Linked DNA regions of Homo sapiens: all the other regions are linked to region 3. Evidence: fine-mapped expression QTL. A gene starts in region 3. Each other region holds a variant in brackets. All regions are shown on one strand. Distances are from middle to middle.

What was found. PIP is the estimated chance that this variant, and not a neighbour inherited with it, causes the effect.
Region 1: its variant is the best candidate, but not a certain one, in a credible set for the expression of OPTN in aorta (GTEx, PIP 0.79).
Region 2: its variant is the best candidate, but not a certain one, in a credible set for the expression of OPTN in spleen (GTEx, PIP 0.58).

The regions. Positions count from the first base shown.
Region 1 is chr10:13,064,779-13,071,398 of GRCh38, forward strand. It overlaps a transcript of CCDC3 not described here. Among named protein-coding and RNA genes, the nearest start is that of OPTN, 32 kb to the right of the region's middle. RefSeq lists enhancers at 1,434-1,948, 1,949-2,462. The variant TGGATATCCAA/T (reference allele first, on the strand shown) is at 3,100.
Region 2 is chr10:13,129,263-13,134,262 of GRCh38, forward strand. OPTN (optineurin) reads left to right here. Exons shown (of 15, transcript NM_001008212.2): 13 at 2,805-2,935; 14 at 4,240-4,319. Among named protein-coding and RNA genes, the nearest start is that of MCM10, 30 kb to the right of the region's middle. The variant G/T (reference allele first, on the strand shown) is at 1,884.
Region 3 is chr10:13,096,962-13,103,581 of GRCh38, forward strand. It overlaps OPTN (optineurin), which reads left to right and starts at 3,202. Exons shown (of 15, transcript NM_001008212.2): 1 at 3,202-3,341. It also overlaps a transcript of CCDC3 not described here. RefSeq lists silencers at 2,478-2,537, 3,008-3,577 and an enhancer at 3,858-3,987.

The DNA of each region.
Region 1 (6,620 bases), 32 kb before region 3:
CTCTGTCTAATAAATAAATAAATAAAAGACATACACTGGTTCTGTCCTGAAAGGCAGGACAACTGAAGTAAGGAGAAGGCTTCTAGGTCACAGGTAGATGAGAGACAAATGGTTACATCCTTTTGAGTTTCTGATCAGCTTTTCCCAAGGGAGGCAATCAGATATGCATTTATCTCGGTGAGCAGAGGGATGACTTTGAATAGAGTGGGAGGCAGGTTGTCCCTAAGCAATTCTCAGCTTGACTTTCCTCTTTAGCTTAGTGATTTTGCAGCCCCAAGATTTCCGAGATTTATTTATTTTTCACACATGTAATAGGATTGGCAAAATATAGCTAAAAATAGTATGTCTAAGTAGAAGTCTTAATGAATACAGATCTCTTTGTTAAATAAGAAGTAATTTTTAATTAGATTAACCTGCCTCTCTTGGTTTCAAACAGTCCTAATCTTCCTAGAGTGCTAATTGTTTATATCCTACAAGGATCTTATGTTTAGTGTTTTTAACTTTTTGGAAGTAGCTGGATGAAATAGATATGGACCTAGGAGAAAAGCAATACCATATAAACACGTCACATCAAAACATCCTACTATTGATCAACTTATTAGCATAAAAATGGTCCAATGGGCATCAGAATATTGAAAAAACAAGGAGATGATGTTGCTGATTCAGGAACTTCTCACTTCTTATTCTTTATTTCTCCTTGGAAGGTAGTTAATGAGATTATAGTTTTAATCCTGGGCATGCTTGGCCACTCTATCTTTAGTATAGGCTTATGGATATTAAGAACGTTCTTGCTTAATAATTACGATATGAAGCTAATGCTGTTTCCTTCTCTTCGATATCCTGCTCATTCCTCAACAGTCAGGGCCCAGGCAATGTCCTACCCCCTCCACAGAATAGCTCCTCCATTCCTGCCCACTTGAACCCACGTTGACACAACTTCCTTCTAAATCCCTGCAACATTCTCTTTGGCATGTATGGACACATTCAATACTTACCAGTTGATGCTGTCAATCATACATCAATGTCATATATATATATCAGTCATTAGATATAAGTTCCATCCAGACAGGAACCGAGTCTCTTTACATTACCAAGTCCACATCACCATGTACAATGATAGGGCACTATAAATGTTTGTTGAATTAATAAGTTCAGGAAAGAATGAGTGAACGAATGAGTGGGAAGTGAGTTGGAAGACCTCTGCAACTGACCAACTCTGCCCTTGCTTAGGGTAATGTTTCTCTAAAAGAGGTCTTTGAATCTTCTGCATCAGAATCATCTGAAATGATTGAGATGCAAAATCCTGGGCTCCATCCCCAGTTCCTTTCATTAGAATATCTGGAGTTGAGCCTAGGAATTTGCAGCTTAACAAGCACCCTAGGTGATTTTTTTTTTTTAGACAGGGTCTCATTCCCATCACCCAAACTGGAGTACAATGGTACGATCTTGGCCCACTGCACCCTTGCCCTCCCGGGCTCAGGTGATTCTCCCACCTCAGCCTCTGAGTAGCTGGGACCACAGGTATGCACCACCACGCTCAGCTAATCAGGTGATTCTTTAGCCCACAAATTTGAGAGCCACTGGTTTACCAGGGTATGTTTTAGCAGATATTTTTTGACTGCTTCATTGGAATAATCTGAATTACACACCACACCTCTCCACAGATTTTATAATTAAGCTCAAACTTGTAACAGTTTGTAATATTCTTTTGTAAGAAATCAATTTTCCTGGAAGAAAGAGATGTTTAGTTTTGGGCACCAGTGTTGTGAGATCACTGGAATTAAGGCAAACAGCAAAACCCATAGTATTTGTATACCATGATGAGACAGCCAAATGCCTAGGCAGATAAAACAGTGTCCCCAGAGAACCTCCGACCCACCCCACAAGTGTTGACATCAGATGCTTTTGTGCAGATGAGGGAACCTGCCCAGGGCCTCGTCTGAGCCTGCCCACACGTGCACTGGGGGAACGGGGTGGAGCCACAGGCAGCGGGAGGAGCCTGGCTCTTCAGTTCTTGTGTGGTGACCTGGGATTCAATCTGTGAGGTGGGGGACTTGTTAGCAGGAAGCCACCTCACTTTGCTGAGTTTTTTTGTTTTTTTCCCTTTTCGCCCAATAAAACCCTCCTCTGCCCACCCTTCAATGTGTCTACATATAATTCTCCTGGTCTTCTGACAAGCTAGAGCCCAGTTTTAGCTGAACTAAGGAGCAAAATTCTGCAACATTTTGGCTCCTAGGTGTGGGGCTTGAGGAGGGGTGGGTAAGATGTGAACCAAAAAATCTTTTTCCCCTTTCGCTTCCAAGCCTTTTTGTCCTTGGGCTTCTTCTGAGGGTAGAGGAAACTGCACACCCCCTCACCCCAATGGCTGCAGGCACCTGCGAGATAGACTGGCGAATGGTGGGTTCCCCGCTCCCCTCCCAGCCAGGGTTGGGGTGCATGGCCCATGGCCCAAGGGTGCCCAATGGTGGACAGCAATTAAGTTTCTCTCCCTGTCGGAGGAACCCATTTGTATAAGAGTAAGAGGTATTTTCCCCAGGCATCTTTCCAACCCTGCATTTTAAACTATTTTTTCCTTTTCTCTACCCTGTCAGCATTTAACTTTTAAGTGAGAGGTTTTTTTTTTCCTTTTTGAAGACATTTTACTAGGCCAGGAATAAGGATCACTGTTTATATTCTCTGTAAAGTTTTAATTATGAAAAAGGATTTGTGAGGTTGGTCTTAAGCTGTAGCCAGTCTTGTGGGCTTTGCATGACTTTCTGTATGGTGAGTAGCAAACCTTGCTGCGGGCCTCCATCTTGTTTTAGGGAGCATGACCTGTAACCACGTGGCAACGTTTTGTCTTAGCCTCCACCATTTTACAATGGCGGCCGGGTTCAATCCTGGCTTAGGGAATAAGTCCTTTCTGGTTTGATATCTGCATGATCTGTTGCTGATTCTCTTCCCCTCCACGAACCACCTTTTATCTTCCTTTCTCTGAGCACCTGGGACATCACCTTTAGCAAAGTTTGAAAGCCAGAAATATTGGCCACTTGGCACGGCTAGTTGGGTAATAAGGCAGTTAAAAGGTTTTTCTCAAAGAGCACTCAGCTTAATTAAAAG[TGGATATCCAA/T]GTTATAAGTATATTTAAAAGGTCTTTACGTTTTTTGTTTGTTTGTTTGTTTTCTTGGATCTCTTTGCTGGAAAAGGGCTTTTTCTCAGTAGACTGAATTATTTTTCTCCATTTTGCCTTGTCACTCTTAATGTATGCATGAGAGGCCCTAAGATAACTCCTGGGGGCATGGGACTCCTTGGGAAAAACAGACAAGGTGCCACTAACCCCGTTTTGGGAAGAAACCTGTTTTTCTCATGGAACCCCGGGAATTAAATGCAGATATATCCCTCTCAAAATCTGTTTTTGCCTCCCAGTCATGCCTATTTTATTAGGCCTTAAAAGCTGCATGTTTTTCTGGCCCTGTCTCTTAAAAGGCAACACCCGGAAGCCAATAATCCAATTAGGAGATTGGCAGACGAAAAATTTCACAGCTACTGCATTTTCTTCTGCTTGTGTAGTTAAATATGTGTCGTGTATGTGATGTCTATAAAAAAGAGCTCTACTTCATTGACTTAAAAGAGGATAAGCACTTGAATCAAATATTTTTTAAAAGGGAAGATAAAAGCTGTGGTACCTTTCAGTTCACATGACTTTAATCCTCGAGGAATAAAAGCAGCCTTAAAGATTATTGGTAAAATGTAGATGTCATCAAAATGTAAATAGGTGATCTAAATTATGCAGGTCAGATATTAGGTTTGCTAAATGTTTTAAGGTTATAAACTGCCTTTTTTGGTTTTTGTGAACAGTTTGACTTGCCTGCTTCACAACTGGTGAGGCCTACAGACATATGGAATAAACCACACCCTTAATTATGCTGGAAGGAGTCAAACCTTGGCTGCGACTTGTACATAATTATAACAACTTACTAGGTTCTACATAAAAGTTAAAAATTGCTGGGAGTTACCATTATAACATGTAACTGAAACTACTGGAAATAGATTTACATGTGAGGTGTATAAGAACAGTAAGATGTGTTTTTAGCAAAAGATGATAAGAAGGCGTAGAAATGTAAATTCTTTCCTAGGCTTGAAGGATTGTTTTGAATTAGATAAGGTAAAGCTGAAGGTTTAATCAAATGATGAAAGGAGTATAAAAATTAATCTTGGCCGGGTGTGGTGGCTCATGCCTGTAATCCCAGCACTTTGGGAGGCCAAGGCAGGCGGATCACCTGAGGTCGGGAGTTCGAGACCAGCCTGACCAACATGGAGAAACTCCATCTCCACTAAAAATACAAAATTAGCTGGGCGTGGTGGCACATGCCTGTAATCCCAGCTACTCGGGAGGCTGAGGCAGGAGAAGCACTTGAACCCGGGAGGCAGAGGTTGCGGTGAGCCGAGATTGTGCCATTGCACTCCAGCCTGGGCAACAAAGACTGAAACTCTGCCTCAAAAAAATAATAATAATAATCTTGCAAAAGAAATTCCATGTGTGAACATATTAACTACATTCAAATGGTTATTATATGGTCTTCTATAAATTCAGCATTGAAATAAAAGCACAACAAGGTACTCTTAAGGCATTAATCTGCTCTTTAGCAAAATTTGTAAAAGGTTATAAAAGGTTTTTTGCTTTTTTAAAATTTCTGAGTCATTATTTTGGCAAAATAAATAATTTATGGCAATCTGGAATTGTATTTCATAACATCAGGTGTTTTAAATTTCTAACACATAACAGACTTCCCAAAATCAAACTTCAGTTTCAAAATTGTCTTTCCTGATGCCTGGCTTTTTGGATGCTACAGAGGGCCCCTGGAGTATCCAAAAGAGAGGTGAACAGGATTATTTGACATGTTTAAGTACATTGGATTGCCAAAATGATGTTTAATCTTCAGGTTAGATTTTAGAGAATTATATTAATATATGTTCCAAAATTGTATGGGATGTCTAAAATTCTAATGTCTGAGTATACGCTATCAATCATAATTAAGGTTATTAAGTTATTGTAAACCACGAAGATAACCAAATTTATTTGTCAATCATGTTTCTGACTATAACTACCCTGGACATTTTGTTATTTACAGATAATTGTCTTATTTTGATCCTCTTCAACAGATGGTTTATAACCAGCTATAGAACTTTGACAGGTGCTCTGAAATGCAGGTTTCTGATAACTTTGGAGATTGTGACATTATTCCAAAGGAAAAACATACAGGACTCATGAAAAGATGAAATGTTTATGAATATCAAGCAAAACAAGAGTTAACTGAACGGTCTAAACTAATACAAAACTGAGGTAATCTTTTGACTTTTGCTTGAAATATTGCTGATCCTTGTTTTGTTTTTCAGAGTCAAGCAAACTTATTTTGAGCTATTTACAGCCTTTAATCATTGAGTAAGGTATACTCCTGTGAACAAAATTTGGAGTATATTTGTCTCTGTCTCTCTGCCTGGCTTCTCCAGAATTTGGAAACTAGTTGTGAGTATTCTTAATTTATGGCCATATAGTTGTTTGCATCAGTGCAATAAGAATCCATTTTCTTTTGCAACAGCACACAATTGGAGAAACTGGTTGCAACAAGACACAATTGGAGAACCTGGTTGCTTTACTGAGGCTTTGACTGGAAAGGTATGCTTCCCTTTAAGGAGTCAAGCTTGACTTGCAGAGTCAATAAAGCCCCATGGGAGAAACTGGCCTCATATCTTCGTACACAGTCCCCATACAGGGTTCCTAACCTGCGGTAGGTAAAGAATGTCACTTTCCAACAGACCCAGGGACCATATCTCTTGAAACCTCAAGAAGAGAGGAGTTTGCCCAACTCATCGGTATTTGAGGATACAAACCCATGACTAGGCTCAGCTTTAAAAGGTCTTATTTGAGATTCTCTGTGGAACAAAGTTCCATGAAAGCCGATCTAAAAGGCCTATGTGGAAATAATTATTCTTGCTGCACTTTATGCAAATAATCGGGCCAAGTATAAGACTAAAGTCTATTTTGCAAACAACCCAGTCCTATCATGATTTGTTTTTAACAAAAATGAAGACTAGAGAAAGAGAAATAATGTTTCAAAACTTATCATTAGGTTCTAGATTCATTCATTGTTTTTAACTTTTTGCCTACATTTTAGACGAACCCTGCTTGTTCCTGTGAACCAAACAGCAATCTCTGGCTGCAGCTCAGAAAAAAACAAAAGGGATGGGTGACGTAAAAATCTGGATCAGTATTCTCCTTCTGAGCAGTTATCCTGCAAATCCTTCCAGGTGATGAAAATAAATAGGATGCCCACCACCCAGAGGTTTCCTTTTTGGGAAAGTAAGACAAAGGGAGCTAACCAAAGCCAAGCCCCATGCGTCCAAATCTTAGCAAGCATAACTATAGCCACCAGTGATCTAGGGGTGTCACAAGACATCCTTTTCTCTCCCTGGTTGGAGGAGGACTCAATTCCACCGCTTCATCTCAGCATTCAGCTTATAATAAGGAGTCCACGCAACCCCCCCTCAAGACGTATTTTTGTCCCAAATTCAATTCCAAACTTCAGCTCAAAGCCCTAGGAAAGAAAACTGGATCTGAGGAATCCAGAGACAGATGATAA
Region 2 (5,000 bases), 31 kb after region 3:
TGCATGGGTCTGTTTCTGGATTTTGTTCTATTTTATTGGTCTACTCATATATCTTTGCTCTGGTACCATGCTGTCTTATTATAAAGCATCAAACTTTTTTTTTTTTTTTGAGACAGAGTCTAGCTCTGTCACCAGGCTGGAGTGCAGTGGCACGATCTTGGCTCACTGCAACCTCCACCTCCCGGGTTCAAGCCATTCTCCTGCCTCAGCCTCCCAAGTAGCTGGGACTACAGGCGCACACCACCACGCTCAGCTAATTTTTGTATTTTTAGTAGAGATGGAGTTTCACCACGTTAGCCATGGTGGTCTCGAACAGTTGACCTCATGATCTGCCCAGCTGGGATTACGGGCGTGAGCCACCGTGCCTGGCCAGCATCCATTTGAATGGTTGGATCATGAGTTATGTCCATTTCTCAGTTAAATAAATATTACCAAGCTGTCTTCTAAAACTGCCTAACCAAAATTATACTCTCACCAAAAGATAAGCACTCCTATGTCCTCACATTCTTGCATTATTTTAAAAACCTTGGCCAATCTGATGAACATATTATTTTTAATATAATAATGTCAGCAGTTTGTTATTCCCTACATACAGACTCATTATCACCAGCTGCCCAGAGTGGCTGACCCCTGTGAAATGCAGCCAGTTGACTGGTACTTATAGCTTTAGTTTTATTTCTACAGGAATAGAGCCTCAACCTGCATTCTCAGCTCTTCAGAGCATTTCCTTGCTTGGGTAACTCATGTCATTGGGTTCTTCCACTCTGCTGCAGTCATGTATTTTTGCTCATTCTAGACATAGACATTTGTTTTCTCTTGATGGATACTCTTGCTCATTCATTCAATAACTTCTTTTTTGAGCACTTATAATATGTCAGAGACGGCCGGGCATGGTGGCTCACACCTGTAATCCCAGCACTTTGGGAGGCCGAGGCAGGCAGATTACAAGGTCAGGAGTTCGAGACCAACCTGGCCAATATGGTGAAACCCCGTCTCTACTAAAAATACAAAAATTAGCCGAGCGTGTTGGCGGGCACCTGTAGTCCCAGCTACTCGGGAGGCTGAGGCAGGAGAATTGCTTGAACCTGGGAGGCAGAGGTTGCAGTGAGCCGAGATCATGCCACTGCACTCCAGCCTGGGCGACAGAGCGAGACTCTATCTCAAAAAAAAAAAAAAAAAAAAAAAAAAAAATCAGACACTGTTCTTACTGCCTGGGATATAGGAATAGACAAAACAAAGACTCTGTTCTTACTGGCTCAAAGCTAGTAAGTGATAGAAGTGAGACTAAATCGAATTTAAGTCATACTCCAAAACACCCATGATCCACTGCCAACACTGTGAGATGCTGAACCACTCACATTGATAGGATATCCCTTAAAATGATCTCTTTATTACATACTTTTAAGTAACTATAGTTTTGATAGAATATTTAGATTTTTAATTTTACTTTTAAAATAATGGATAATAATTTATATCTCAGAACCAGCAAATTTGAAAAGAAAAAACTAATTTTAAACATAGAAAGTGAAAAATTAGTATTAAATTCCAATACCAATGGAACAGTTCACTCAATTAGCTGACAGCATTAAATATTAAAACACTATTAAGTGTTTTGTTATTTATAATTTTTTAAAAATTACTTAATTTTTAAAATGTTGTGTTGTTTTGTTTTTTGAGGCAGGGTCACACTCCTGTCACCCAGGCTGGAGTGCAGTCGCATGATCGTGGTTCACTGCAACCTCTATTTCCTGGGCTCAGGTGATCCTCGTGCCTCAGCCTCCCAAGTAGCTGGAACTACAAGTGCATGCCATCATGCCCAGCTGATTTTTTGTATTTTTAGTAGCGATGAGGTTTTGCCATGTTGCCCAGGCTGTCAGCAGGAG[G/T]CCTCAGTTCCTCACCATGTGGTCTCCTCCAGAGGGATGCTTGGGTGCCCTCATGTCATGGCAGCTGGCTTCCCCCAAAGCAAGTGATCCAACAGAGAGCAAGGAGTGACAGCGTCTTTTGTGACCTAGTCTCAGAAGCCGTACACCATCACTTCTGCGGCATCCTGGAGGTTACACAGGTTGGGTTTATTCATTGTGGGAGGGAAACATACAAGGTGATGAATACCAAGAGGCAAGGATCACTGGAGCCATCTTAGGAGGCTGGTGACCACACATGGGACATGGATTGAATATGGAAAAGTTCATGGGAAATGGTCTTCTGTCTGGTTCAAATGCTGATTTGGCCACTTAACAAATTTTCCCAAGATTAAGAGCCGTTAAGTTTGTAAAATGAGGATAGCCATTCTTTATTCTCAGGATATTTCATAAGGTAAAATAAGATAGTAAATGTAAAGCACCCAACATAGGACCTCACACATGTTTGGAATTTAACAAATAGCATCTATTTGTGATGATTATTCTTTTAAATTTAGCTTAAGACCAGCCTTCATAAATACACCTGGCAGAATCAATTTACTATATTAAGTAATCATTTACTATATTAAGTTGATCCTGAATTGTTTATTATCTAAAAGTCCAGATAATTTTGCTGAATTAATGGTACCTACAGTATTTAAACTACCTATATCAGTGCAGTTGCAGGATTTGTGTTGTTTAAAGCACACACACAAACACAGCTTGTATCTGCTATCGGAATGTACCTGGAAAGTCATGGTCATTATACTGTTTTCTAGCAGGATTGTGCATCTGTGATTCACAAGGGCTATTGAAGGATACAGCACTACCTCCTCATCGCATAAACACTGTAAGAATCTGCATTCATCTAGGTACTAACTTCTGTATCTTTTTTTCCTCTAACAGATGGAAGTTTACTGTTCTGATTTTCATGCTGAAAGAGCAGCGAGAGAGAAAATTCATGAGGAAAAGGAGCAACTGGCATTGCAGCTGGCAGTTCTGCTGAAAGAGAATGATGCTTTCGAAGACGGAGGCAGGTAAGGAAAAGAGAGAGGAGGACCCAGAGCTCACATCAGCATGGCCGTAGAAGAGGTGCCTGTCCAAAGACGTTCCTGATTTGAACTATAAGAATAGCTGTGTTCGCGCCACTGCACTCCTGCCTAGGTGACAGAGCGAGTCCCCTGTCTGAAAAATAAATAATAATAATAATAATTGCTTCACTTACACTTCATGTGATCATGTTCCCAACACTTAGTTTGTCTTACAGGAAAGCTTGACAGAGACTTGTGGGAGCTTGATCAAGCTCCTTGCTTTTAGATAAGCAAGGATTTTGATTTGATTTTAAAATGTTGTGTTGTTTTGTTTTGTTTTTTGAGGCAGGGTCTCACTCCTGTCACCCAGGCTGGAGTGCAGTGGCATGATCATGGTTCACTGCAGCCTCAACTTCCTGAGCTCAGGTGATCCTCGTGCCTCAGCCTCCCGAGTAGCTGGAACTACAAGTGCATGCCACCATGCACTTGTAACAATAATGTTACGTGTCCCAATGACCTATCTTGCCATCGTCACGGATGAAATATTCGTAGCACTTTAAATTCCTGAATATTCTTTAAAAAATACTAACAAAAATTACTTCTGACTTTTAGAAATTTATTTTGAGAAAGTTTTAAAACACAGCAAAATTCAGAGAATAAAATAACAGACTCTACTATGTACTCCTTCCTGCATTGACAACTGCTTTTATTTGCTTCAAGTATTTTTTTTTTATTAAAGGAAAAAGGGAGTTGTAGTTAGAATCAAAGTCTCCTTTGTTCCCCATCCATCATTATATTCCTTTCTTCTTTACCTTGTGCTGTTAGGAATTTGGTGGGTAGCTTCCCCATCTATTTTATACTTTTACATATCACATACACACTTACCTATATCATATCTCAAAACCAGATAATATTGATTTCTCTGTGTTTAAGTTACAAAATGATCACTGTAGGTATTGTTCTGCAGCTTACTTTACATAATATTATGATTTTGAGCTCTCTTGATATGTGCGGATGTAATTTATTATACTTCATTGCTGTATTTTGATTTATAAATATGCCACTTCTTTCTAATCTGTTTCCTACTGATGACAGTTTGGTTATTTCCTGATTTTTTTTAACTGTAATTATTTACTTTCACTAGTCTCCTAGTGCCAATAGTATTTAAAACTAAAATTAGTCTGGTTTTTATGAACCTTGGCAGTGTAGTTTGAGTCTTTTTTCCCCTACTTCTGTGGACTGTCTGCTCAGTGTTGTCATGTTTCGGGGTTGTAGAACATCACACAGCGTGTTGCTTTTCGTCCTGGCAGGCAGTCCTTGATGGAGATGCAGAGTCGTCATGGGGCGAGAACAAGTGACTCTGACCAGCAGGCTTACCTTGTTCAAAGAGGTGAGTCCCGTGTGATCCTGGATTTTCAGGAAATAGCTATCCTATGAAAAAGATGCTTGAAGAAAAATTCCACTTCATTCTCTACAATGGATTCCAAATCAAGGCACCAAAAATATAGCACCCGTCAGTCTCATTACCACAGCACTCCCATCTCCATCCATTACCCACCGAATCCAGACCAGACCCTTCACCCTGCCAGAAGGTGCCTGGCACGGCCACACTTTTTCTTTTTTTTCTTTTTTTTTGAGACAGAATTTCGCTGTGTCGTCCAGGCTGGAGTGCAGTGGCGAGATCTCGGCTCACTGCAACCTCCACTTCCTGTGTTCAAACGGTTCTCCTTCCACAGCCTCCCGAGTGGCTGGAATTACAGGCGTGCACCGCCACACCCAGCTAATTTTTGTATTTTTAATAGAGATGGGGTTTCACCGTGTTGGCCAGGCTGGTCTCGAACTCCTGACCTCAACTAACCTGCCTGTCTCGGTCTCCCAAAGTACCGGGATTACAGGCGCAAGCCACTGTACCCGGCCTACAGCCACACTTTTAAACCGTGTCTCCCTCTGTTCTCTTACAGACATTAGCCAGACTGAATCATCCCCTTGAACTTGTCCTAAGCTTGTATTTGCTTGTATTATGCCCTTCACAGAGACGCCCTTTTCTTATGCATATTCCTGTCTTCCTCCA
Region 3 (6,620 bases):
TTCTCAAAAGACAAGAAGAAAGGCTGTACTTCTAAGAGCTGTTGCCAGGAGTCCAGCCAACGCTCCTGAAGGTAGGAAGCCCAAAGGGACTCGTTGCTAACTCCAAACAGAGGAGATTGGGGTGGAAAGGGAACACAAGGAACATCAAACCCAGATTAGGATCTCACTAAAAACCTTCCCACACTGCTCTACATTTACCCACCACAAAACCACATCAACAAATCAGCTAAGAGCATGCTATTATTTCAGTTTTTTCGCTGCATTTAGATTCCATCTACCCATGGAAGTGTGCAGGAAGATGGAGTCACCAAACGGGATGATCCAGGCTAAGAAACAGAACCGGCTCTAACACAAGCAACAGCAACAAACACCATGAGCCAGGCGTTCTTCTAGGTGTTGAAGACGTATTTCCTCTTTAATCTTCTCAGCATCCTTAGGTGAGGGCTGTGGGTCCAGAGGCCTTATCTAAAATTTTTGGGTGGCTGGGCACCGTGGCTCACACATGTAATCCCAGCACTTTGGAAGGCCGAGGCAGGTGGATCACCCGAGGTCAGGAGTTCAATACCAGGCTGGTCAACATGGCGAAACCTCATCAATACGAAAAATGCAAAAATTAGCTTGGTGTGGTGGCACACGCCTGTAATCCCAGCCACTTGGGAGGCTGAGGCAGGAGAATCACTCAAACCCAGGAGGTGGAGATTGCAGTGAGCTGAGATTATGCCACTGCACTCCAGCCTGGGCAACAGAGTGAGACTCCACCTCAAAAAATAAAATAAAACCTTTGGGGCAAGCTCTGCTTTAGAGTCCAGAATTCTGGGGATTTTCAAAAGGCTATTCAATAAATGGGATTTATATCACATAACACCCTGACACTGTCTGACGCAGTTCTCCTATCAACTATTCGATTTTCCTTCACAAAACAAATTTAAAAATCACATCAAGGGATCTAAATAAAGACTGTAAATAGCTTTCCATCAGTTGGGTCTGGTCAGAAAAGAGGTTTGGTCCTTAGAACTTTCTGGATTTGGGAGTGTACTATACTCCCCATTTTACAGATAAAGGGAATGAGGAAGGGTAAGATGAAGTAACTTGGTCAAGGTCCTACAGCTAAGAAGTGGTTGTCGGGGGAGTGTGTGTGCATGTGTGTGTGCAGTGCTTCAGGGCACCCCCCACCCCGACCCCACCACTGAGAGCAAGGAATCAGGAGAAAACAACTTTGACTGCTTTCTGTACCAGAAACTCACCTCGAGCCTCCCACACCAAAGCCATGGGCAGCTTGTGGGTGACCTTCTTCTCTTGGCTCTGAGTTTCACTGATGCTCATTTTAATTCACTTTCATAGTGTTGTTTTGTTCTCGTTTTTGTTTTTGCTTGAGACAAAGTCTCCCTCTCACCCAAGCTGGAGTGCAGTGCTGCAATCACAGCTCATTGCAGCCTCTCCCTCCTGGGCTCAAGCGATCCTCCTGCCTTGACCTCCCAAAGTGCTGGGATTACAGGTGTGAGCCACCGTGCCCCACCTATAGGGTTTTAAACAGTAAAAGGAGCCTAGTGAAGTACGACTTACCGCAGGCACCCCTTACAGGCCCCGGGGGGACCCTTTTCTGCCGATCCCAGGGTACAGCTGTGACACCGTCTTTTCTGCCTGGATTATCCCAGTAGATAAACAAAAATTAGAGATCGTCATTCCATTTCTCTCTGTATATATTTTTCCAAGCCCTTTTCATGAATGATCAGTTATTTCCTGCACTGATTTTTTTTTTTTTTTTTTTTTTTTGAGACGGAGTCTCACTCTGTCACCCAGGCTGGAGTGCAGTGGCATGATCTCGGCTCGCTGCAAGCTCTGCCTCCCGGGTTCAAGCGATTCTTCTGCCTTAGCCTCCCGAGTAGCTGGGACTACAGGAGAGTACCATCATGCCCGGCTAATTTTTGTATTTTTAGTAGAGACAGGCTTTCACCATATTGGCCAGGCTGGTCTCGAACTCCGGACCTTGCGATCTGCCTGCCTTGGCCTCCCAAAGTGCTGGGATTACAGGCGTGAGCCACCGCGCCTGGCCCTCCTGCACTGATATAAAAAGAATTTTTTTAAATTCTCTATTTCTCCCCACTCCCACCCCCAGGCTCACTCCTTATAAAGCAGCCTCTAGCCTCATCTGCCCCTCCTACACCACACCAACTCGAGGGCCCGGAATTGGGTCTGGGGCAGTCGCTGACTTGCTTGCTTCTCTGCCCTGCTCTTGGGGTTAGCCTCAGGGGCAGGGTTGAGAGTCAGGCTTGGCCAGGCAGCAGGAGGTCCAGACAGCGAAGCAGAATCCTTCGGAGATACCAGGAGAGGGCGCATCTGCCTTTTTCCTGTTTCAGATTAGGTTTTGTTGTTGTTGTTTTGTTTTTTTTCTCTCCCTCTCTCCCTCCCTCCCTCTCTCCCTCCCTCTCTCCCTCTCTCCGTCCCTCCCTCTCTCTCTCTCTCCCCCTCCCTCCTTCCCTCCCTCCCATCCCTGCAGCGCTACCCGGGTACTCTGGATGCACATAGGGCGGCTCTCGCTCCTACCTTGTCATCCTGCTGTCTAATCCGGGGGCAGCTTCCCTCCTCCACACCAGCAGAGGCTATTCTTCAGCAACAAGAATAGCCGAGCCTATTCGTCCGCAACAAGAGCCCAAGAAGCATCCTGCAGGCTTTCTGCTTTTTGAGTGTATTTTAAAGCAAAAACGAGTGGAAAGCTATGTATGCTCAGTTAACTATGTCTAGATGTTAACCTTTTTTCAAAAAACACAGATGGAGGCCTCCCTCCGAGGATGCCTGGCATTCTCCTCTTTCTGTGGGCGGCAGCGACCCCCTGCGGCTCCAGCCTCCACTACGGGATCTGCGGGAAGACACGGGGAAGACGAACTCCGCACACTGCATTTGATTAATGATTTATTTTGATTAACGCCGTCACAGTGACGCCTTAGAGCAGTCCCTGTTCACCCGGGTCCCAGCCTCGACCCCGCACGGACAGCGAGGGTGGGTAGCTGGGGGCGGACGCAGGAAAGAGGAGGGGCGGGGCCTTGGTCGGGTGGGGTATGGAATGGGCAGGGTGGGGGGGATGGGCGGGGTATGGGATGGGCGGGGCCCGGGAAATTCCCCGGCGCGGGCAGGGAGCGGCTGGCTGTCAGCTGAGCCGCGCTGGGCGGGGTCGCCAGGCCGCGCATCAGCCCTAGGCACCCCAGTCCCGGCTGCCCCCTCCGCCACCGCCGCCGCCCGCCGGCAGGTTCCCTGGTCAGCGTCCCATCCCGGTCGGGAGTTCTCTCCAGGCGGCACGATGCCGAGGAAACAGTGACCCTGAGCGAAGCCAAGCCGGGCGGCAGGTGAGCCAGGGCAGGGGGCTGCAGCGGTGGGCGAGGGGGCGGCGGCTCCTTCCCGGCGGGCGCTTCCGCGGCCTGAAAACGGTACCCGCCGCCCTGCCCCGCGGCCCGGAGCCTGTCGGGGTGAGGGTGGCGAGGGGTGGGGCGGCCCTCCCGCGAGACGGCTGCCCTGGGAGGATCCCCAAGCCTCGGCGGGTCCTGACCTGGTGGGAGAGGGTGGGTAGTGAACACAGGGTGGGCCCAAGAAGGGTCCAGGGCCGGCCTCTTGGCCGCAGGTAACCCCTCTACAAGTCACCCAGAGACTTGGAGGTGACGTCCTCCCGCAGGCTGGGAAGGATTCCGCAGCCAGTTCCTCGCCATAAGGAGGTGGTTACAGACACGCCTGTGGGAGACATGGGACCACTACCCGAGCTGAATGAGGTGCCCAGGGTCGGTGGGAATCCACATAGACTGCTGTGTCTAGGAGAGTGTGTACACTCTATATAGAGAGAATATTTGATGAGGCCGAGAACCCCAAAGGAATTGTTTTTGCCATCGAAATGCATAAGCTACAGGAAGTAAACATCGCTCAAAGAAAATGAAACCCAGGTTCCGACCTGGCCTCCACCAGCAGGAAAACTGTTGTATGGAAATGTACACCAAGGAACTGTTTGTAAGGATGAAATGGAAAATGAAAGCATAGAAAAGTAAGGCAATGTGAGGACCTCAGAAGCCTTTGGATCTGGTTAGCAAGGTGCAGGCTGTGTGAACAGAAGAACCCACCTTGCTCTTTTGACCCAGGGAGAGAAGAGTTAGTGGTGCCAGGCTGCCTCCCAGGACAGGCCCAGTTTTGGGGCGGGGGCTGGAGAAGTCCCAGGGCAGACCCCAAGGCCAGGGATTGCCCTGGAGTGGACAAGGCAAGTTTAAATGTGACCTGTAGACAGAGGACGATCATTGATTTAAGTCCTGGCATAATTCATCTGTTTTTCCACTGGGCCAATTTTAGGCGTTCTTTATATATTACGTACAACACAATAAAAGTAACAGCTTCTTTTTTTATAAACTAACCTTTAGGTTGCATATTATGCTAGGAATATAACTAACCTAACCTCCACCCCCCCACCCCCCCACCCACCCCCGGAAAACCAAACTTTATTCTCGAGGGCAACTGGACACTGTATTATGTCCTGCCGAACCCCCGCCCTTACTTAGGTAGAGGCGCATAAGTATTCTGGCCATGAAATACACCTTCTGTTTTATAGAGATTTGGCATATTTGATATATGTTCTTTGGAATTTATGAAATAGAAAACCCAAAGGAAAAAGAAAAAAATTAAACTTTTTTTTAAAAAAATATTTCATTTAGAAAGAAAAAATTAAAAGTTTTTGTTATTTCCACTTTGACATGTGTATGAGGAGCATTAGAATCTGTGTTATGAAGTGATACCCAGATGGCTTTGCAGTGACAGAAAACACTTCTAATTTTTCAAATAAGTTAGAAAGGAGGATTTTGAGAATCTGGAAGTGAATGCCGTGGAACTGTGGAGAAACTCCTAACAATACTGGCATGCTGAGTTTGTCACCTACACAGCAGAAAGCATTTTACAGGTATTAGACTTAAAAATACCTCATTATGCTATATTTTCATTTCATTTCAACCAACATTTACTGCAAGCCTGCTATGTGCCAGTCTCTAGTAAGAATAACATGGAGAGAAAATAGACGGGCAGACGATAGCAGTAATTTCAGAATGGGCGGAGGAGGTGGAAATGCAGAGTGTTCTTGGGTGCTCGGAGTAGGGAACAGTTCATATGACACAGGACATCATATTTAAGCTGGACATTGATCTGTCCAGTGGAAGTTTGCCAGGACACAAGGGGAGCCAGACATTTCGGGCAGAGGGCAGAAGGGAGGCAAGGACGCAGAGACAGAAGAATGCAGGGAACCGTGAGCTCTTTAACGTGCCTTGGGTACGAGTGTTTTGGTGGCAGGAGGTGACTCTGGTGGGTCAGTTGGGCCTGGGCCCTGAAAGGCCACGTTTGTCTTGTTAAGAAACTGAAAGTCTGTCGTGTATGGGAAGGGTGGACTCAGGGGAATGACCTCATATTGCAAAAGAAACCATGAGGGCAAGAGGACTGAAATTGACAGGGCTGAAAGCCAGTCATTTAGGAGGCTGTTAAAATGTATTCAACAGATATTTACCGAGTCCTGCCTTCTATGTGGCAAGTAATGTTCTCAGTCCTGGGGATACAGCAGTGGACAAAATAGGCAGAACCCCTGTCCTTTGTGGAGGTCAACATGGCTGTGGTACAGACAAGATAAGGGCCTGAACTAAGCCTGTGGGGATGGAGAGGAGGCAGTGGATTTTAGAAACACTTAGAAGGGCCAGGCATGGTGGCTCATGCCTGTAATCCCAGCACTTAGGGAGGCCGAGGTGGGTGGATCACTTGAGATCAGGAGTTCAAGACCAGCCTGGCCAACGTGGCAAAACCCTGTCTCTACTAAAAATACAAAAATTAGCTGGGAATGGTGGCATGCACCTGTAATCCCAGCTACTTGGGAGGCTGAGGTGGGAGAATTGCTTGAACCTGGGAGGCGGAGGTTGCAGTGAGCTGAGATTTTGCCACGGCACTCTAGCCTGGGCGACAGAGTGAGACTGAGTCTTAATTTAAAAAAAAAAAGAAAAAATAAATATTTAGGAGGTAGAGGTGATGGCATTTGGTGACCCATTAGACTTGGGGAAAAGGGGGCTGGGAAGAATCAAGCCTTACTCCCAGGTTCCTGCCTTGGGGAGCTAGGTTAAAGCTGCTGCCATTTTCTGTATATTACTAAAATACGAAGTCACAATATCCCTTCTAGTGTGTAATGACGAGGCTGCTTTTACCCCATTAGTAGGATGCATACTCTAAGTTCTTTTTCCAAGGTGGGAAGGGTTTAGTCAATGCAATGTTAGAATCTTACCCCCCTTGTGAACCCAAACTCTTCATAGCATTTGCCAGTAGCCAACTCTTGTCTCTGGTCAAAAAGCAAGTTTTCACTGTTTAAAACTCATTTATCCCATGTAGGGATTGAACCTACGAATACTTCATTAGCAAATTTGAAGACTTGGCCATACCAGGGCAAGGGCCTAACCTTATACTATGTGCAGTGTCCACTGGGGGGAAGTCAGTGTAAGGCAGGTACCATTTGACACATTATGACTTTCTGACCACTAGAGCCATCCCACAGTGGAACAGACAGTGCCTGCTAAGGTCACTGCACTCGTGCTCTGTCATTGAAATACTCAAGCCTGCTCTATAGGATC